Regions from separate parts of the Homo sapiens genome. Here all the other regions are linked to region 2. The links come from fine-mapping of genetic effects on gene expression. A gene starts in region 2. Each other region holds a variant in brackets. All regions are shown on one strand. Distances are between the middles of the regions.

Region 1 (5,217 bases), 64 kb before region 2:
ACACAAATACCATAATATGGCCCAAAATCTTTACGATTTTTGAATTTGTAAAGTACTTTGACCATATTTTGCTTTTATGTTAATAGTATTCCAGTGAAATTCCGTGCATGGGGACACTGGAGCCCAGAAAAGTTAAGTGACTCATATTTTCTCACCAAGCGTGGGTGATGGAGCCATTCAGTTTTCCGATATTTTATTTTTTATATGAGTATTCCTTTAACTGGAAACTTTCCTAACAACAAACACCTAAAGACCTGCAGAGTTGCTTTTATTTTTGTTACCCCAGCTCCACGCCTTAACCCTCACTTTGAAATAGGATGTATCAACCCTATTTTGCAGATGAGGAAAGCAAGGGTCAGAGAGGTTAGACAACTCTTCCAGAGTCACACAGCTGGGAAGTAGCAGCTCCAGGAGCAGAAGCTGGGGCCGCTTCCTGGTGCACCGATGGTCTTCAGGTGTTTTGTGGAAACTCGGGGGCCTCCGGGGCGACCTTGAGGACATGGACAAGGCTAAGCAGGGGTTCCCTTCACCCAGCCCTGCCCTTGGTTTACTCAGGAGTCAGACCAGCCCTAGTTTCCTGTGTTTCATGTATTGGCTTTTCATGTGAAACTCGAGGAGAGCTTGTCCGTTGTCAGAAGCTGTTTTTTGAACGTCTCTACACAGTCCAGGCAGGAAATAGAAGCACTCACATCAGGAGCTCAGTGTCAGGCAGGCAAGCCTCCTGCAGGGGAGCCCCGCCCTGCTCAGGTGGCCTCATCTCCCCTCCCAGCTGGTGGTGCTGCCCTATCAGATGCTGCTGCATGCGGCCACTCGGCAGGCCGCCGGCATCCGGCTGCAGGACCAGGTGGTGATCATCGACGAGGCGCACAACCTGATCGACACCATCACGGGCATGCACAGCGTGGAGGTCAGCGGCTCCCAGGTGCGTGGGCCTCCCCTCCCCAGGCCAGGGCCTGCCGTGAGGTAAAGGGACTTGGATGGTTCCTCCAGACACCCGGGCCAAGAATTCCTCCGGAGGTGGGGCTTGCTACAGGGTGCACGAGTCAAGGCGGTGACCTCATCGGAGGCTGACCATGGCTTTCCAGTGCATCCCAGAACTCTGGGGACCCCGCTATGACAGAGTGCCTCATTTCCCTGCACCTCACCTGCCCCCATGCTCCTGAGTCCCTCCAGCCCTGGATGCCAGCAGCCAGTTCTGCAAGCCAGGGAGATGGCATGTGTGAGGCAGAAGTCCCCTCAGGATTGGATTTTGTCATTACTGAAGTTGTCTGGAGGGGACTGAATTGAGGAATGCTCAAGATCAGTGCAGGCTCCTCCTGCTGCCCTATCATGCGCCATGCATGGCACCAGGTGTCTCTGGTCTTCACGCTGACTCTGCCATGGGGGTGGTGTTCCTGTTTTACATTGGAAACTTGGAGATTCAAAGATGGTCAAGCTCTGTCCTGAGGTCATGCAGCTCATGAGTGTGGAGCTGGGGTGTGCCCACTGGTTTCTGACTGTGAAACCCCCACGACATCCCACCAGCTCTACTGACCTGTGCCTGGGCTGAATTGAGGCTGGGATGTGATGGTGACCTTGAACCATCACTCTTTGTAGACTCCAGGTCTTTTCCCAACCCGGTGGAAACTAGCAGGCAGATTCCATACTTGAGGAATTCAGCCTCTTGCTTTTTCTCTGACCCACAGTGGACACTGGAGGAAACCTTCCCTTCCTTCCCTTTTCTCTTAGCTCCCACCAGCCTAAGGGCTGTGGAAACCAGTACCTTTTGTCTGCACCCAGCCCCCTCTCCTCCCTTTGGTGGCTTCCTGTGTGTCCAGGGCTAGCATCTTCTAGGTGAATCTAAGATGTCAGTACCTTAGCCCTCGGCTGCTTGCTCAGAGCCTGGTTTGTGTTCTTTCCCCAGCTCTGCCAGGCCCATTCCCAGCTGCTGCAGTACATGGAGCGATACGGGTGAGATGTGACTCTCTGAGGTAGTGGGACAGTCCCTTGGTGGCCCCCTGCATGGGCCTCTGAGAGGCAGCACTTTGGTTCCCACCTCTGGCCCGTGCTGTGGCGGGGTGGAGCTGCATGCCATTCATGTCCTAGGCACATGATGGTGTGTGCTGCACACAGACCTGGAAGGCTGGGGACTGACCGCTGGCTCTGAGGCCTGGGGCCGTGGCCAGCCTGCTCTCTGGGAAAGGATTTGTAGCTTGTGACCCAGTTTGAGAGGCACCGGGCAGCAAGGCTTCCACTGGGGTGGGCGGGGCGAGTCGCCATCAGGGCACCACCACTTAATGTCCGTTGGCTTCTTCTCAGGAAGCGTTTGAAGGCCAAGAACCTGATGTACCTGAAGCAGATCCTGTATTTGCTGGAGAAATTCGTGGCTGTGCTAGGGGGTGAGAGCCTCGCCCCCCGGCTAACCCCCGGCCTGCAAAACCCACCGGGCTGCTTTTTCCTTGGATGCCCATCAGGACGCCTCAGTTCTCTGTGTTTTTAAGAAGGGTCGGCCGGGTGTGGTGGCTCACACCTGTAATCCCAGCCCTTGGGAGGCCGAGGCAGGTGGTTCACCTGAGGTCAGGAGTTTTGAGACCAGCCTGGTCAACATGATGAAATCCCATCTCTACTAAAAATACAAAAAAATTAGCTGGGAGTGTTGCCGTGGCCTGTAGTCCCAGCTGCTCCAGAAGCTGAGACAAGAGAATTGCTTGCTCAAACCCGGGAGGCGGAGGTTGCAGTGAGCCGAGATTGTGCCACTGCAGTCCAGTCTGGGCGACAGAGTGAGAGTCAGTCTCAAAAAAAAAAAAAAGAACCAAAAAAAAAGAAGGGTCTTGGTCATTGATTTAGAAAATTCTTGTTCTTTGTAGCTTAGTTGAGTTGTCTGACTTGAGCTTTTTTTAGACCCATGGGTTCTTTGCCCATGTTCTGAGGACTTTTTATTTCAGGCGCTGCTCTGGGGGGATATTAAGGATACAGCATCACATGGACACACGGTGTTTCCGTGATAGGCATAGTTCTGTGGGTTGTTCGAAGCACTTGCATATGCGGTTTTGTGTGCCCTGTGAGAACGCAGTGCTGGTATTTGAATCCTTGTTGATAGACGCATAAACTAGAGCTCGGAGCAAGGGCTGCTCCCAGCACGGGAGCCTGGGATCTTCTGACTCCAGCTCCCACGCCTCTTTGCGTGACCCTGTCACGTCCCCTTCTTTTATGATGGGGCACCCCCTTGCTGGAAGGTGTCTGTGGAAGTGGAAGCTGCAGAAAGCCTGTGGGAGCTCCTGGCGGGAGCTGGTCTCGTGTTGCTGCTCTGAGC[C/T]GCCAGCTCTGCTTTGCCTCAGGCTCACCAGTGGCCTGGGCAGCTCCTCTGTGCTCCGGTGCCCTGCATACCTTGGTCTGGCTGCTGTGTCCCGGCCTCCTGGAGAAGGGGTGAAAAACATGAACTTACAGGGCTTTGGGTTCCACGTGCAAGCACGTGAGTCAGACGTGGGAGGCTCCTGGACCCACCTGCCCTCTAAGTGGGTCCGTTGCATGCTATAAACAGTGAAAAGCAAAACAAAGCCGTTCAAATACAGATGCTCTTCTTACTTGATGTGCAGTGTGGAGGGAGAGAAGATAGGGAAGGGTTGGGGGGCCTGAGAACCACCATTGTGACCTATTTCCATTCTCTTTTTTAGGGAACATTAAGCAAAATCCCAATACACAGAGTCTGTCACAGACAGGTAAGAGAGTTGCCCTCAGAGGGCCCAGAGCTGATCTGAGCCACTTCCGAGCTTAACCCTGGGACTGAAACCTGAGGCTTAGGGTGAAGCTCCCAAGGCCCTTCATGTGTTTGTTCTCAGGGACGGAGCTGAAGACCATCAACGACTTTCTCTTCCAGAGCCAGATCGACAACATCAACCTGTTCAAGGTAGAGGTTTCCACCTTGCCATGTTCCACATCCAGTTTCCTTCCTGTCACCACCTGTGGGTAGAGTACTATGTTAAGACTATAGAAGGAAGAAAAAGCAAAACAGACGTGTAATTACTTAACCCTTAACGCAACACGCCTGTGAGACAAAAGTCATCATCTTTTAGAGTGAAGGCCACAGGGATGAGGGATGGGTGAGAAAGGGACCTTTCTTGGTGCCCCATAGAACAGATAGAGACTCCAGGTCCTTGCTGTCTCACCCCATCTTCTGGCACAGTCTCCCTCAGGCTTATGGACAGGAATAGGACGTTGATTTGTTCTGTGCAACCCCTGTCACGTCTTCGCACTTGGGCCTTGGGTGTGGTTGCAGCCTCAGACCTCTGCTCGCTCCAGGTCTGTGTACCCAGCGCTCCCCAGATGAAACACGGCCACTGCCGCCTGAACCCCCAGCTCGTAACTCAAATCAGCAACAGTGACTGCCCCTGGGTACAGGGTTCTGCCTCTGTTCTAGGCGGCATGCCACGTGCTGTGCTCTGAGCTAGGATATCCTTTTGCCCCGGCAAGGAAAGCAAACAGGCCCATGGAGGTGACTTCAGGAGGGTGGCGAGCACAGGCTTCCCACAAGTGAGCCAATAGCAAGTGGCAGAGACAGCGTCCAAACCTGGCTGCACTGACTTGGGGCCCCACATTCTTCCCATCGTGCCTGCCTTTTTTTTCTTAAAACCAGCTTTTCCCCTGAATTACACATTTGGGTCACTGTCACTGCCACCATCCCTGCCAGACAGGCTGGATCCACGTCATCCTTGATGCCTTTCTCCCCTTGTCTCCCACATGCCTGTGACAGCCGCCAGGCCTGACAGCCTCAGACAGTCCTGCCGTCCCCGCGCTTCTCCCACAGCTGGGACATGGGTGCAGGCACTCCTTCTCTCGCCTTCCCTTTGCCCTCCTTGCTTTCCTTCTCCCTTCTTCCCATGGGTCTCGGGTCTCATCACCCACCATTGAGGGAATCCTCATCGAAGGACGTCGCTCTTTTTAGAAACCGGTTTAAAGCCTCCAAACTCCTCATCTCTGCATCCCAAGCTAAGATGTGGCACCAAACCACACACATTGGATGCACCGACTGAGTGGCACTGCCCCAGCCCCTGAGCAGGTCCCAGCCATCATCTCCTCTGTGGCTTTGCTCATAGAAGTTCCTTTGTTTTAACTCTCTGTCACCTGGAAGGAAAGCCAAGGGGACCTAGATTTTACTGGGCACTCTTAGACTTGGGAGAGACATTTGGAAAGAGGGTCTCCCCCCTGAGGAGGACACTGCGTTGTGGGCAGGGGCAGTAGAGG
Region 2 (5,242 bases):
GATGAGCTCTGATTGATTGGTTTCCAAGCCCTAAACTGGGAGTCTCTGTCAGACTGTGGCTGGCTGGTGGTGGGAGGGGCCCAGCAGCAGTTTGTCCTGGGAGCAACAGCAGGCGCTGGTTTGGCTTGATTGTGAAAAGAGGGGTCCTGTGATGCTCTTATATCTTTCTGAGAACACAGAGTATGTGATCGCTCCCACACCCGGCTGTAGCCACTGGGTTTCTGTTTTAAATATGAGTACCTCAGTGAGTCATAGGGAGTCCATTTGGTCTGTGGGCTGTGAACATACTTTAAACAATCCCAATCCTGTTCTCTCTTGACAAATCACTTTCTTTACCCAAATACAGATACTGGAGTACGTGTCTTTCCTCCCCTTAAGGACAGTACCTCTTGGGCTTACTTTAGTTAGCCCCACCTAGGAGAGAGCCTGGCACATGTTAGGTCTTAATAAACACTGAGCAAATGAATGACTGAGTTGTATGAGACATTTCATTTACCCTCCCCGGCTCCATGCCTGGGAGGAATGAGCTACCTCTGAAGATGGGTAACGTCTTGAGATTTTCACAAAAGAATATAAAGCTAGCAAGTCAAAGACAGTGTGATACTGCTTTAATTTTAGTTTAGTTTTTTTTTTTTTTTTTTCCTGAAACACAGCACATTAGGAGTTGAGATGATGGTATTGACTGTCCTTGTGGTTTGTGTGCAATTTTTAACCAGGATTCATGGCTGGGGAAACAAAAGCACTTCTTTGCTTGCATAACTTTTTTCCCTTCCTTTATTACTTCAAAGAGGCAAGATGTGGTTTGCATTCATTTCACTGCTAATATTGCTCTCAAAGATCGCTAAAGATCTCTTCTCCCCTTACACATTCCACTCATTTATAACCCAGATCCTCAGTGTGGCTAATGGAGGGTCCCTCAGCCCTGTAACTTCTGTGCATGAAGCAGTAGGTAGTGGGTCCAGTTATGTTAAACATTAGGTAATATCAGTATCTTTTAACCTTACTATGAGAATCTTAAAGATGGAAGCATTAGCCTCTGCTTATGATTGCTGCAGGCAAGAATCTGCACCAACCCTCCCAAGAGTATAAAGATCATCACCGTCACCGTCACCATTGTAAGGTCACAGCTCTTCACAGTTCACTTATCTTTTTCCTAGTTATTCTCCCTCCTAATCATTGCCAAAGTCTTGGGAGATAGGTGTGAATCCTTCTAGGACGCAGCTGAAAAAGTTAAATGTCTTGTCCTAGAGCACACAGCTCAGCAGCACCAAGAATGAAATGTTAAATCTGGTGTTTTTCCCTCTCTGCTGTAGTGAAGCTCTGCTAGAGATTTACCGAAGTCCTTGATATTTTAACCTAGCTATCAACTTCAGCCCAGAGAAGGTCTTCCAAAAGTAGATTCCAAAAGTATATTCATCCATCAACCATAACCTTAAATCTGAAGCCAGGAACTAAAAAGAAATTCTCAAGGTAACACAATTGTCATGAAGTCTCACTCCCAGGGCCAATTATAATCTGGATTTTTGTCTTCATCCTTCCAGGTGTCTCTGATCCCACTGTAAGCAAACCCTGAGTCCTAGGGCCTTTCTTCCACTTATTTCACTCTTTCTGTACACATTTTCCAGTACCTCCACCACTCACCACCCTCCAAAAAGAACTGATCCCTAAGCTTGTGCAGTGATTAACGATTTTCATGTCTTTTCTATTTGCCTGCAGTTATGCTACAAGATCTCTTGGCAAAGGACTAGCCAGGCATGCCTAATATATACATTCGTGTGATTTAACAAACTGGTTTCTACCACTTTCGGCCTGAAGTGACAGTGTTTTTTAACGTTGGTTGCAGGCAGGGGACTGTTGCCCCCTGCCAAGCACTTCAGCTTCCTTGCCCGGCCTCTCCTTGGCTTCTGTCTGTCCCCACCAGCAGCTCTTCATGGGACCCATCCTGACCCTCCAAGAAAGCAGAAAAGGAGGTTCCTGATGCAAAACCTAAAGAGCTTTCATCTGAGGAAGGTGAATCCTTTTTAAACTATGAGGCCTGGAGAGACGTTAAAATGAGAGCAATCACACCCTACTCCCCGCTTTGAGCTATGTATTCATCTCTTAAAACTGCTTGCTATTGCCACAAGTAGCTATGAATTAATTTTAATTTAGGATTATTATAGTGTCTCACCAGAAGCATAAACCACATCCTATAACTTAACAATAACCAATTGCTCATCAATTTTGTTTCTGTAATCCAAAGAGAGTTCCTGATCAACAACTTTGTACCAGCCCACTCTCTCGGTCCCAGTCTTTTGTTTTTAAAAACCTGCTTGGAACAAAGGCTCTAGGAAGCTCACAGCCAAGAGTACTTGGGTCTGAGTCTTCCAGGCAGCTGTCCTCACTTTGGCTCAAGTAAACTCTTTAAATTATGCTTTGCGTCTCAGCCTCTGCCTTTTGGGTCAACACTGAGGGGAGTAAATGAATGGCACCTGCTCCTTCTCTGTCTGAAGCTTGGACTTCTCCTGAGAGGACTTCCTGCTCCAAGATAGGAGGGAGTCTCACTCAGAAGAGGAAGGAGCTCCTGTCTGCTGAGGACACGGTTCCATCCAATGAGGTCAGCAGGGCTATCAGCAGCTTCCGTTAATTCCGTTGGGGCAGGCGTGTGGCAAGCAGCAGTTATTTGAGCTGAGGATGCTGGGATGGATTTTCACATGAGCAGTTGGCCCTTAGATCATGAGACCAGCCTAAGTGCCCAAGGAAATGGAACAGCAGGGAGGGGGAGGGACATCACACCCACTATCAAAACTTCTTGTTAGTCTCTGGCTTCCACATCCTTCCCCAAAACTTCAGCCCAATTCACAGCCGCATTTTTCCATCTCTTTGCCATTCCTCCATGGGAGAGCTTTCTGTTGGTACAGGAATAGCTGAGAAGTGGGAAAGATCAAGGGTAGTAAGAGCTGCCCCCGATAATCTACAGAAAGCTTTGCTGGAATGAGGTTGTGCATCTCTGAACCTGAGCTAGATTTGTTGGGTCAGGGACCATACTTATTTACTGGCCCAAGAATTAGAAGAGGAGGTGTCTAAGAAATGCTTGTTGAATGAATAAATAAACAGCCGAGTGAGTGTTTATATGAGCCTGAAAACTGCCTGCACCAGCACAAAAGTAAAGCCCCAACACCCTCAGGTCACACCTACTGGAAAAATATATGTCAGCCCCAGAAAAATGTGGGCAACATGAGGCAACTCCGGAGCAACACAGGAAACTGCCCTCCTCTTCTGGCCCCTCTTCCACTGTGATGCTCAAAGTCTGTGATGACCAAGTCTGGTCATCTAATCAGCAGGATATAAGAGGGTCATTCTTCACTGCGGCCATTCCAGTTTCCTGGAAACTTGGCTTTCTCCTGACCGTTTCCCCAGGAGCACGGTGGTGACAAGCTTGAGCTCTGACATCAGAAAGTCCCCAGTTTGAAACCTCTAGCTTCTTACTCGCTAGCTATGAGACTTTGGGCAAATTAATCTCTAAACCTCAATTTCTCAATCTGTAAAATGTTCAAGGTCAAGCAACTCACTTTTCCACATTGTAATTGATGAAACTAAAATTCAGACTCAGATCTGCCTCACTCCACAGTCTGTGCTTTTTCCTTCCCACTCATCTTTTTCTCTTTCTATTAAAAATTTCATAACACATTTGAGATTCTGTCTCAACTCATATCACTGAAATCATCTGTCACGTCTGATGATCATATAGAAGCCAGACTAAGATTCAGCCACAAATGTTATGCCTAAACATTTCTTATTATTTCTTTTTAATGTTTCTCATGTATACAATCAAACTCGCACCCTAGTATTATTGGCAGGCTAATATATGCCCATGAGACATGTAGCTTAAATCTCTATGGGATAGGATAAGTATTCTCCCTTTGTTTGTGATTTGAAAGCTTTCCATGGATGCTAAAGCGATTTGTTAAAATACCTTCACCTGTAAGTGTTTTTCCTCTCTTAAAAGCCTAATTCATCTCTGAGTTTGTTTACTAAAATAATCTAATTTGCTCATTTTCTCTAGCCATTCCAAGCTAAATCCCAGGAAGTACTAAAGAAGCAATGCACAGACACAGTATCATACAATTTGAGACACAGTATTATAAAATTGATGTGAACTTCTAGGCACAGTGTGCTCACAGTCTGTCTGGAAATAACTTTGTAGCAAGCATAGTTCCAGTCTAGCTGCCTGGCAGCCTGGCAGGATATTATTATTACTGATACTAATTTACTTTTTAATGTAAGTCTACCCAGAATATATTAAAGAAGTTTCAAGAAATCAGGATCATGGATTATAACCTGACGTAGTGCTAAGGAACCATCAGTTCCATGTAAGCATTTGGTTAGCAAGTCTTTTTCAAAGGCCATGCTTGAGAAACAGTTTTGCTCTCCCAAACAATGTGTTGTAGTTTTTTTTAGCATACTACTGTGCAGATAAATAAATGAGATATTAATGCCATTGCAAGTTCTGGCTTTGTGTAGAGTTTTCTAGTGAAGCCTGTTTAGGATCCTGGATTTGTCCAAGCTGTTCTGATTATCCCATCATTTTTAACATGGATAATCTACAATCTTTCATCTATTACATAAATTGAATTCTGGCACAAGTTCAACTGCTCTTCATTGAAACTGAGAAAAATTTTAGGATCACTTTGCTGGAATCCAAAGAAGATGTTAAATACTACCAAAAAAAAAAAAAGGCTGAAAACTGGTTTCCAAGAATCTCTGGGGCATCCTTAAGAACTCCCCTTGCATGTTCATTAGACGGCCCTTTACCCAATGTATCTCTAATAGTCTGCTGAAAATACTCAAAGGCAAGTAATTTTCATGTAATCAACTAAACAAAATGTTTAACAAATATGGCAAATATTAATATTTTTAACTGTTTATGTAAAGTGCAAGAGAGTTATTGATTAGGAGAGTAGCTCTGAAGCCGAACAGCCTAGGTCTAAATCCCGGTTCTTTCATCAACAAGCTCCATTACTGTTGATAAGTTATTTGAATTATCGGTGTCTTAGTATCTTTCCTTATAGAGGTGATGATTGCTCCTACCTAATAGCACTGTAGCAATCATATATGCAGAGCTTATCACACTAATTGACATTCAAAAATATTAGCTCTTAAAAAATTATTATTAGAAATTTGAGAAAAAGAATCACACTAAAAAAGGATAAAAGGCATTGAAAATAATTCCCCCAAAAGAAAATAAAAATTTCTCAAATCA
Region 3 (5,488 bases), 26 kb after region 2:
GTATTAGGAACATTCCAATTCCACTCTTTCAGTTATTTTGAAATATACAATAAATTATTAAGTACAATCACCCTATTGTGCTACTGAACACTAGGTCATAATCCTTCTAACTGTATTTTTATACCCATTATCCATTTCCTTGTCTTTTTTAACTTAATGTAGTGTGAGCATTTCCCCATCATCAAATATCATTTTATAAAATTATTTTAAATAACTGCATTTATAAAATAGCCACATTTTATAAAATTATTTTAAATAACCTCACTCGTGAATACTGGGGTAGCTGGGGATAAATTTTTAGGCTCATTGTTATTGTCCCTCAAAACGTGGAAGTTATTATTCCATTGTCTCATCTACTGCTGCTGATGATTTAGGCTCATTGTTATTTTCCCTCAAAACGTGGAAGTTATTATTCCATTGTCTCATCTACTGTTGCTGATGAGATGTCTGCTGTTGGCTTGGCAATCTTTTCTTTGCAGCAAATCTTTCTTTTTTCTTTTAACCTTTTGGTGTTTCCTCATTTTTTAAATTTTTTCTTTTATCCCAATGTGTCTAGGGGTTTATCTACTATCTAATAAATAAATATGTATTTTTAATCCTGTAAAAGACTTGATGTGCCTTTTCAACCCAAGGGTTATCTTTTTTAATTCTGAAAAATTCTCAGCCATTGTCACTTCAATGATTACCTCTTGCCCAACTACTCAATTTTTTTTTAATTCCCCTTAAGCACATATTGGAGTAAAACTCTATTTTACTTTGCTCATCTTTCTACATATCTGTGCTGTAAATTGGTCACTCTGTCTTCCAATTCACTCATTCACTCTTCAGCTGTGCCTAGTCTGCTGTGAAACCTATCTAGAGAGTTGTTTAAATCAATCTCTGTTTTTCTGTTTTGGACCCATTAACAAAAATACAGCTCCATGTTTCTTTTATGTAAAATGCTGTATTTACCTTAAAGTTCTTCTTTTAACTTAATTCTTTTCGATAGTTTAACACACATAAGTTTATGAAACAATACGTACACCTCAATGACTTGTCACAAAGGAGTATCTATGTCATCATCATCTAGGTTAGAAAAACAAAAAAGGACACTGCCAGCACTCCAGAATCCACCATTGCGATGCTCCCTAGTCTCTATTCCCTCCCAAGGTGAGGATTAACCTGACGTTTATTATATAAAAATCACTTGGTTGATTTTCTTTAAAGTTTTTATTTTGAAATGATTGTAGATTCACAGAGAGTCACAAAAGTAGTAGACAGAGTCCCTTGGATGCTTTACCCGGCTTTCCCTAACAGAACAGCTATCTTACAGAACAGCAGGACACCATCAAAACCAGGGCATGGGCATTGTCTGACTATTGTTAGACTACAGACCTTATGCAGTTTTCACAGTGTTTGCATGCACTCCTTTGTGTGTGTGTGTTCTATGCAAGGTGATCTCATGTGTAGTATCCTGTAACCACTTGCACCAACTGTCCTTGCCAAAGAACTGTTTCATCACTGAGAGGAATTCACTTGTGCTACCTCTTTTTAGTCACATCCTCGTACCTTGTCCCTGTCTCCTGGCAACCACCAATCTGTCCTCCATCTCTATAGTTTTGTTAGTTGGAGTGGAACAGGAATTAAAAGAAATTAAAGAATGTGTAAGCAAAAACTCAGTTGTATGTAAGAAAACCCAATTCCCCCTGAGGAAGAGAAAGAGCTGGAGTCCTTTAAAAATTAACTGCCTGTTTTTCTGTGGCTAGTGAGCCTTATCTCTCCCTTTCCCAGGCATTATGAAGACCCTGTTTCTCTAGCTGTGCAGCTCCAAGGTCACTAGACAGATAAACTCAAGTTGTAAAATATGTTTTTCCTTGAAAAGTAAGAAATAATGTAATGCAAGTCTCAATTGAATAACTGTCTTTGTTTCTCGCTTCTGTAATATGCTTCCCCCTGCACAAATCTTCCCCCACCCATGAAATGCTTAAAAGGTAACTTGACTCTTTGTTCGGGGCTCAGTCCTTTGGATGTTAATCTGACTGGGCCAATGCACCTAAATAATAATAATAAATCCTCCTCAACCCCTCGGTCTCTCTGATTCCTAAATTATCCCACAACAGGAGAATGTTTTATACATGGAAGCTTGTAAGTGTAAAACCTTTTAGAAGATTGGCTTTTTTCATAAGAGGAAGTTTTTTCTTTCGTCAACAAAAGCCAAAAGCCAATCTTCAACAAAAGATTGG[C/CT]TTTTTTCACCAAGTTTCACGCTCTAACAAAACCTCCAAGTTTTTGCCTGTATCAATAATTTCTTGCTTTTTATTCCTGGGTAGTAGTCTCTTATATGGATATGGTAGAATTTGTTGAGTCTTTCACCATTGAAAGATATTTGGGTGGTTTCCAGTTTGAGGCTATTTTGAATAAAACTTTTAAGAACATTGATGTACAGGTTTTTGTGAACCTGCTTTCATTCTTCAGGTTAAATCCTGAAGAGTGAAATTGCTGAGTCACATAGGACATGTACCTTTGGTTTTATAAGAAACTGCCAAACTCTTTTCCAGAGTGGCTATACCTTGTTCAAGTGATGCCAGTGATGTGTGAGTTGTCTGGTTTCTAAGCAATCTTGCCAGGATTTGGTGTCATCATTGAGCTTATCCTTTCTAACAGACATAGCGATACTTCATTGTTTTAATTTGCATTTCTCTAATGGTTACTGATGCTGATCATATTCACTTGTGCTTATTTGCTGTTCATGTTCTTTCTTTGACAAAATGTCTTTTCATGTCTTTTGCCCACTTTTACACCGGATTGTTTTTTTAAAAAAAATGTGTTGAATTTTGAAGGTTCTTCATAGATTCTACATACAAGTCCTTTGTCAGCTATATGGTTTGCAGGTGTTTTCACTCAGCCTGTAGCATGTCTTTTCATCCTCTTAATAAGATCCTTCACAGAGCAAAAGTCCTACATATTGAGGAAGTTCATTTTGTCAGTATTTTCTTCTACAAATTGTTATATTGGTGTCATGTCTAACAACTTAGTCTTGAATATTTCTCCTATGGTTTCTTCTAAAAGTTTCATAGTGTTACATTTTTTATTTAAATCTGTGCTCCGTTTGAATTAATGTTTATATAAAGGTAGGAGCTTTAGGTTGAGGTTCAATTTTTTGCTTATGAAAGTTCAATTGTTTCAGTAGCATTTGTTGAAAGATTCTCCTTTCTCTATTGAGTTGTCTTTGCAGCTTTGTTAGAAATCAATTTTCCATGTCAGTGTGGATCTATTCCTGGATACAGTCTGTCCCATTGATCTCTGTGTCTATCCCTTTGCTGGAATCACACTGTCTTGATTACTTCAGCATTGGAGCAGAACTTTAAAATTGTGTAGCATCGCTTTTCTGACATCATTCTTTTTTCTACCTTTTAATCTTTACATGTCTTTTAAAATCAGATTACCTGATATACAACATATCCTATGGTGGGATTTCGATGGAGTTGTATTAAAAGTATAGATCAATTTGGGAAGAATTGAAGTCTTTATTAAGTATTTCTACCCATGGATCCATGTATTTCTTCATTGATTTAGGTCTTCTGTGATTTTGTTTACAGCATTTTGTACATTTTCAGCATACAGATCTTATATAGACTCAATCATTTCATTTTTTCAGAGATAGTACAAATGCAATTATTTTAAAATGTTGATTTTCTGTTAGTTATTGTTAGTATATACAAATTAAATGAGTTTTGTATTTTGAACTTGTGCTACTTCTGGAATGTGTGTGTGTGTGTGTGTGTGTGTGTTTGTGCACGTGTTTATGTAGTCCTTGGAATATACCATAACCAAGTGGGTTCTTCCTGGGAATGCAAGACTGCTTCAATACTTGAAGATCAGTCAATGTAATCTGCCATAGTAATAATCTAACAAGAAAATCAACATGATCACATCAATTGATATAGAAAAAAAATTTACAGAATTCAACATATTTTCCTATTACAGATTTTCTGCAAACTAGGAATAGAAGCAAGCTTCTTAACCTGATGTATCGCACCTTCAAAAAGCCTACAGCAAACATCTTACTTAGTGATGAAAAACTGATTGCCTTCCCCATAAGATTGAGAACCAGGCAAGGATGTTTACTCTCATCACTCCTATCCAACATGGTACTGGAAGTCCTAGCCAATACAATAAGGGAAGAAAATGACACAAAATAAAGGTAGTAAGATTAGAAAGAAAGAAATTGTCTCTATTCACAAACAAGGTGATTTCTTTTCCTTTTTCTTCTTTTTTTTTTTAAGAGACAGGTTCCTTCTCTGTCACCCAGGCTTAAGTGCGATCATGGCTCATTGTATCCTCAAACTCCTGGGCACACACAAACAGTCCTCCTGCCTCAGCCTCCCAAGTAGCTAGGACTACCGGTGCATGCTGCCAAGCCCAGATAATTTTTTTTATTTTTTGGAGACACAGGTAGTCTCATTCTGGTTTCAGCTCTGGAAGGGGCGAAGAACAAGTCCCCAGAGCCCATCCTGTCCCTCGTGGATGACATACTGAGGGCTCAGGAAGACGCTCCCTCACAGCCTGCCCCAGTTTCCAGGCTGAGCCACCTGAGCAGCTGCTTCGGAAAGCCTCTTGTGCCATAGCCATGCTTAGGAAAAAGCATATCTTCCATTCAATTCACCAAGAAACACCAAGAAATAACTGGATACAAAGAATAAAAAATACTCTGGTGTGGCAGGGCAGGAGGGTGAAAATTGTGCCCCCTCCAAAGGTAATGTCTATAAAAGGATAACTAAGGCCAGCGCCAAAGTCCACCTACAGAAGGCGGGTCTGTCTCAACCCCAGCTGTCAGTCACTGTGAACCTTTAGAACTGGGGCTGAAGCTTCTTCCAGTTGCTTGCTCAGATGTCAGTGAGACCGCTCCACAACAGATAAGGGGAGCTGTGTGTCAGGGAAGTCCCAGCCACTAGGACAAGCTGCACTCCAGGCAGCTGTTTCTGTTCTTGTGCAAAGAACAGCGCAATCCATTCAAGTTCACAGGGGCGGGTGGCACTTGAAAATGTCAGGGTCAACTTGCAGGGCAGAAGTTAGCAGGGAAGTCTTCCTGGGGGAGTGGGAGAGCCCAGCAGAGTTTAGGAGGAGGGAGGGGCGACATCGGGGCAATCCTCTGAGTCTCTCTTTCCTCCTCAGGAACTGTCCAGGAAGACCCTGCAGTCTCTCTGCAGGCTCATGGGAGCTCCCAGAACTGAGACAACACACGGATCCAGGCCTGCTTCGAAGTCAGTGGGATGCGGCCCTTGAAAGTCGATGTATTGGGTTCCTAGGGCTCTCGTGAAAACATGCCACACCTGGCTGGTTTTAAACAACAGGAGTTTATTCTGTCAGTTGAGAAGGCTACAAGTGCAAAATCAAGGTATTGACGGGATGAGTTCCAACTAGAGGCTGTGAGGCAGATCAACTCCATGGCTCTCTCCTGGCTTCTGCTGGTTTCTGGCAACCGTTCACTTCCCATGCCTGGTAGACACAT
Region 4 (5,488 bases), 60 kb after region 2:
ATTTTCCTGCCTCAGCCTCCCGAGTAGCTGGGACTACAGGCACCCACCACCACACCCTGCTAATTTTTTGTATTTTTAGTAGAGACGGGGTTTCACTGTGTTAGCCAGGATGGTCTCGATCTCCTGACCTCACGATCCGCCCCCCTCAGCCTCCCAACGTGCTGGGATTACAGGCGTGAGCCACCGCGCCCGGCCTATCCTCTCCATTTTCATATGAGGAAACTGAAGTTGAGAAAGAAAATAGTCCAAATCACAAGGCTCATAGATGACAAAATCATGACCCAAACCAAAGCCCACCTACCCCACAATACAAGTTTCCCTAGGACCCCTGCCCTAGAGGACCTCCATCCCAGCCCCTCGATCTCCTCCCGTCCACCTCCACTGCTTGCCCAGGTCACAGCAGGCCAGTGCCCACTGCACTGCTTCCTCCTAACCCAGGGAGTTCCCAGGATGGAAGGAAAGAATCCTTTCATGCTGCGGCTCCCGGGCTCAGCTTGGCTCCTTCCTGGGAACTGAACCTGGCCAAGAACCACCTGATTACCTTGGCGGCTCAGGATGACCCTGCCGTCCTGGTTGGCCGTAGTGAGAGCTGCCAGGAAGCCTTCGATGTGCATCAGTGGGGAAGCTGGTTGCGGGACGCTGGCCTGACTCTCGTCTGCAGGGGCTGCAAGAGCTGCACAGAGCAGAATGGGGAGGAGGCCTCCCTCTTGTCAGGTCCACACATGAGGAACAGAAGTCCTTGCCCATGCGTGCAGCCGGCTCTGCCTGCTCACCCTCCTGCCTCACCTTCAGTCGTCCTGGGCTGCAGGCTCTGCAGGAATTGCTGAAACCCAGCCAGTTTGGGCTGCTCCCGGGATGAGAACACTGCTCCGTACCGTTCAGTGAAGCCAAAGAGCTGGGTGGGATGAGAGAGAGCAGTGGAGAGGAACGAGGAACAGCCATGAGAGAGAGGCTGGGTGGATCGGAGGCTCTGCCAGGCCCAAGACACCTGCAGCACGCATCCCACCACCTCAGCAAGGCCCACTGCACCAAGGAGGGTGGAGATGAAGGGGACTCTGGAGTTTCCTGAGGGCAGGGGAGGAAAGCATGGCAACGGCAGGGGGTTGGGGCACAGCTGGGTCTTGTTCAGGACCACAAGATGGGAGCAGTTACCTTTCTGCTGATCATGCTCTTCTCACAGTATCGCTGCACCTGCAAAAACCAAGCCCAGCTGTAGGCATGTGTGCAAACTGAGCAAGCTGTAATCTTAAACACAAAACAAAAAACACCACTTCTACCACCCAGGCAGCACAACGCAGTGCTACCTTCTGAGGCACCTGGAGCCTCCTTGCCACCAACCTTGTCATCCCCTCTCCGAGGCCACCCCCTCCTCTACTGCCCCTGCCCACAACGCAGTGTCCTCCTCAGGGGGGAGACCCTCTTTCCAAATGTCTCTCTCAAGTCTAAGAGTGCTCAGTACAATCTAGGTCCCCTTGGCTTTCCTTCCAGGTGACAGAGTTAAAACAAAGGAACTTCTATGAGCAAAGCCACAGAGGAGATGATGGCTGGGACCTGCTCAGGGGCTGGGGCAGTGCCACTCAGTCGGAGCATCCAATGTGTGTGGTTTGGTGCCAGATCTTAGCTTGGGATGCAGAGATGAGGAGTTTGGAGCCTTTAAACCGGTTTCTAAAAAGAGCGATGTCCTTCGATGAGGATTCCCTCAATGGTGAGTGATGAGACCCGAGACCCATGGGAAGAAGAGGGGAGAAGGAAAGCAAGGAGGGCAAAGGGAAGGCGAGAGAAGGAGTGCCTGCACCCATGTCCCAGCTGTGGGAGAAGCGCGGGGACGGCAGGACTGTCTGAGGCTGTCAGGCCTGGCGGCTGTCACAGGCATGTGGGAGACAAGGGGAGAAAGGCATCAAGGATGACCTGGATCCAGCCTGTCTGGCAGGGATGGTGGCAGTGACAGTGACCCAAATGTGTAATTCAGGGGAAAAGCTGGTTTTAAGAAAAAAAAGGCAGGCAGGATGGGAAGAATGTGGGGCCCCAAGTCAGTGCAGCCAGGTTTGGACGCTGTCTCTGCCACTTGCTATTGGCTCACTTGTGGGAAGCCTATGCTCGCCACCCTCCTGAAGTCACCTCCATGGGCCTGTTTGCTTTCCTTGCCGGGGCAAAAGGATATCCTAGCTCAGAGCACAGCACGTGGCATGGCGCCTAGAACAGAGGCAGAACCCTGTACCCAGGGGCAGTCACTGTTGCTGATTTGAGTTACGAGCTGGGGGTTCAGGCGGCAGTGGCCGTGTTTCATCTGGGGAGCGCTGGGTACACAGACCTGGAGCGAGCAGAGGTCTGAGGCTGCAACCAGACCCAAGGCCCAAGTGGGAAGACGTGACAGGGGTTGCACAGAACAAATCAACATCCTATTCCTGTCCATAAGCCTGAGGGAGACTGTGCCAGAAGATGGAGTGACACAGCAAGGACCTGGAGTCTCTATCTGTTCTATGGGGCACCAAGAAAGGTCCCTTTCTCACCCATCCCTCATCCCTGTGGCCTTCACTCTAAAAGA[A/C]GATGACTTTTGTCTCACAGGCGTGTTGCGTTAAGGGTTAAGTAATTACACATCTGTTTTGCTTTTTCTTCCTTCTATAGTCTTAACATAGTACTCTACCCACAGGTGGTGACAGGAAGGAAATTGGATGTGGAATGTGGAAAGGTGGAAACCTCTACCTTGAACAGGTTGATGTTGTCGATCTGGCTCTGGAAGAGAAAGTCGTTGATAGTCTTCAGCTCCATCCCTGAGAACAAACACATGAAGGGCCTTGGGAGCTTCACCCTAAGCCTCAGGTTTCAGTCCCAGGGTTAAGCTCGGAAGTGGCTCAGATCAGCTCTGGGCCCTCTGAGGGCAACTCTCTTACCTGTCTGTGACAGACTCTGTGTATTGGGATTTTGCTTAATGTTCCCTAAAAAAGAGAATGGAAATAGGTCACAATGGTGGTTCTCAGGCCCCCCAACCCTTCCCTATCTTCTCTCCCTCCACACTGCACATCAAGTAAGAAGAGCATCTGTATTTGAACGGCTTTGTTTTGCTTTTCACTGTTTATAGTATGCAACGGACCCACTTAGAGGGCAGGTGGGTCCAGGAGCCTCCCACGTCTGACTCACGTGCTTGCACGTGGAACCCAAAGCCCTGTAAAGTTTATGTTTTTCACCCCTTCTCCAGGAGGCCGGGACACAGCAGCCAGACCAAGGTATGCAGGGCACCGGAGCACAGAGGAGCTGCCCAGGCCACTGGTGAGCCTGAGGCAAAGCAGAGCTGGCGGCTCAGAGCAGCAACACGAGACCAGCTCCCGCCAGGAGCTCCCACAGGCTTTCTGCAGCTTCCACTTCCACAGACACTTTCCAACAAGGGGGTGCCCCATCATAAAAGAAGGGGATGTGACAGGGTCATGCAAAGAGGCGTGGGAGCTGGAGTCAGAAGATCCCAGGCTCCCGTGCTGGGAGCAGCCCTTGCTCCGAGCTCTAGTTTATGCGTCTATCAACAAGGATTCAAATACCAGCACTGCGTTCTCACAGGGCACACAAAACCGCATATGCAAGTGCTTCGAACAACCCACAGAACTATGCCTATCACGGAAACACCGTGTGTCCATGTGATGCTGTATCCTTAATATCCCCCCAGAGCAGCGCCTGAAATAAAAAGTCCTCAGAACATGGGCAAAGAACCCATGGGTCTAAAAAAAGCTCAAGTCAGACAACTCAACTAAGCTACAAAGAACAAGAATTTTCTAAATCAATGACCAAGACCCTTCTTTTTTTTTTTTTTTTTTTTGAGACTGACTCTTACTCTGTCGCCCAGACTGGACTGCAGTGGCACAATCTCGGCTCACTGCAACCTCTGCCTCCCGGGTTTGAGCAAGCAATTCTCTTGTCTCAGCTTCTGGAGCAGCTGGGACTACAGGCCACGGCAACACTCCCAGCTAATTTTTTTGTATTTTTAGTAGAGATGGGATTTCATCATGTTGACCAGGCTGGTCTCAAAACTCCTGACCTCAGGTGAACCACCTGCCTCGGCCTCCCAAGGGCTGGGATTACAGGCGTGAGCCACCACACCTGGCCGACCCTTCTTAAAAACACAGAGAACTGAGGCGTCCTGATGGGCATCCAAGGAAAAAGCAGCCCGGCGGGTTTTGCAGGCCGGGGGTCAGCCGGGGGGACGAGGCTCTCACCCCCTAGCACAGCCACGAATTTCTCCAGCAAATACAGGATCTGCTTCAGGTACATCAGGTTCTTGGCCTTCAAACGCTTCCTGAGAAGAAGCCAACGGACATTAAGTGGTGGTGCCCTGATGGCGACTCGCCCCGCCCACCCCAGTGGAAGCCTTGCTGCCCGGTGCCTCTCAAACTGGGTCACAAGCTACAAATCCTTTCCCAGAGAGCAGGCTGGCCACGGCCCCAGGCCTCAGAGCCAGCGGTCAGTCCCCAGCCTTCCAGGTCTGTGTGCAGCACACACCATGATGTGCCTAGGACATGAATGGCATGCAGCTCCACCCCGCCACAGCCCGGGCCAGAGGTGGGAACCAAAGTGCTGCCTCTCAGAGGCCCATGCAGGGGGCCACCAAGGGACTGTCCCACTACCTCAGAGAGTCACATCTCACCCGTATCGCTCCATGTACTGCAGCAGCTGGGAATGGGCCTGGCAGAGCTGGGGAAAGAACACAAACCAGGCTCTGAGCAAGCAGCCGAGGGCTAAGGTACTGACATCTTAGATTCACCTAGAAGACGCTAGCCCTGGACACACAGGAAGCCACCAAAGGGAGGAGAGGGGGCTGGGTGCAGACAAAAGGTACTGGTTTCCACAGCCCTTAGGCTGGTGGGAGCTAAGAGAAAAGGGAAGGAAGGGAAGGTTTCCTCCAGTGTCCACTGTGGGTCAGAGAAAAAGCAAGAGGCTGAATTCCTCAAGTATGGAATCTCCCTGCTAGTTTCCACCGGGTTGGGAAAAGACCTAGAGTCTACAAAGAGTGATGGTTCAAGGTCACCATCACATCCCAGCCTCAATTCAGCCCAGGCACAGGTCAGTAGAGCTGGTGGGATGTCGTGGGGGTTTCACAGTCAGAAACCAGTGGGCACACCCCAGCTCCACACTCATGAGCTGCATGACCTCAGGACAGAGCTTGACCATCTCTGAATCTCCACGTTTCCAATGTAAAACAGGAACACCACCCCCATGGCAGAGTCAGCGTGAAGACCAGAGACACCTGGTGCCATGCATGGCGCATGATAGGGCAGCAGGAGGAGCCTGCACTGATCTTGAGCATTCCTCAATTCAGTCCCCTCCAGACAACTTCAGTAATGACAAAATCCAATCCTGAGGGGACTTCTGCCTCACACATGCCATCTCCCTGGCTTGCAGAACTGGCTGCTGGCATCCAGGGCTGGAGGGACTCAGGAGCATGGGGGCAGGTGAGGTGCAGGGAAATGAGGCACTCTGTCATAGCGGGGTCCCCAGAGTTCTG

The links. PIP is the estimated chance that this variant, and not a neighbour inherited with it, causes the effect.
Region 1: its variant is the best candidate, but not a certain one, in a credible set for the expression of LINC02367 in visceral fat (GTEx, PIP 0.59).
Region 3: its variant is the best candidate, but not a certain one, in a credible set for the expression of LINC02367 in lung (TOPMed, PIP 0.81).
Region 4: its variant is the best candidate, but not a certain one, in a credible set for the expression of LINC02367 in ileum (GTEx, PIP 0.69).

What each region holds. Positions count from the first base shown.
Region 1 is chr12:9,300,325-9,305,541 of GRCh38, forward strand. LOC642846 (DEAD/H (Asp-Glu-Ala-Asp/His) box polypeptide 11-like) reads left to right here. Exons shown (of 22, transcript NR_024374.1): 10 at 770-922; 11 at 1,904-1,950; 12 at 2,299-2,378; 13 at 3,651-3,695; 14 at 3,816-3,883. Among named protein-coding and RNA genes, the nearest start is that of LINC00987, 63 kb to the left of the region's middle. The variant C/T (reference allele first, on the strand shown) is at 3,293.
Region 2 is chr12:9,364,765-9,370,006 of GRCh38, forward strand. LINC02367 (long intergenic non-protein coding RNA 2367) reads left to right here and starts at 2,700. Exons shown (of 4, transcript NR_120479.1): 1 at 2,700-4,832. RefSeq lists an enhancer at 1-241.
Region 3 is chr12:9,390,568-9,396,055 of GRCh38, forward strand. It overlaps LINC02367 (long intergenic non-protein coding RNA 2367), which reads left to right. Exons shown (of 4, transcript NR_120479.1): 3 at 3,964-4,090; 4 at 5,152-5,488. Among named protein-coding and RNA genes, the nearest start is that of LINC02367, 26 kb to the left of the region's middle. The variant C/CT (reference allele first, on the strand shown) is at 2,223.
Region 4 is chr12:9,424,930-9,430,417 of GRCh38, forward strand. It overlaps LOC124902873 (a long non-coding RNA gene), which reads left to right and starts at 1,462. Exons shown (of 2, transcript XR_007063206.1): 1 at 1,462-1,705; 2 at 2,651-5,488. It also overlaps the pseudogene DDX12P. The variant A/C (reference allele first, on the strand shown) is at 2,546.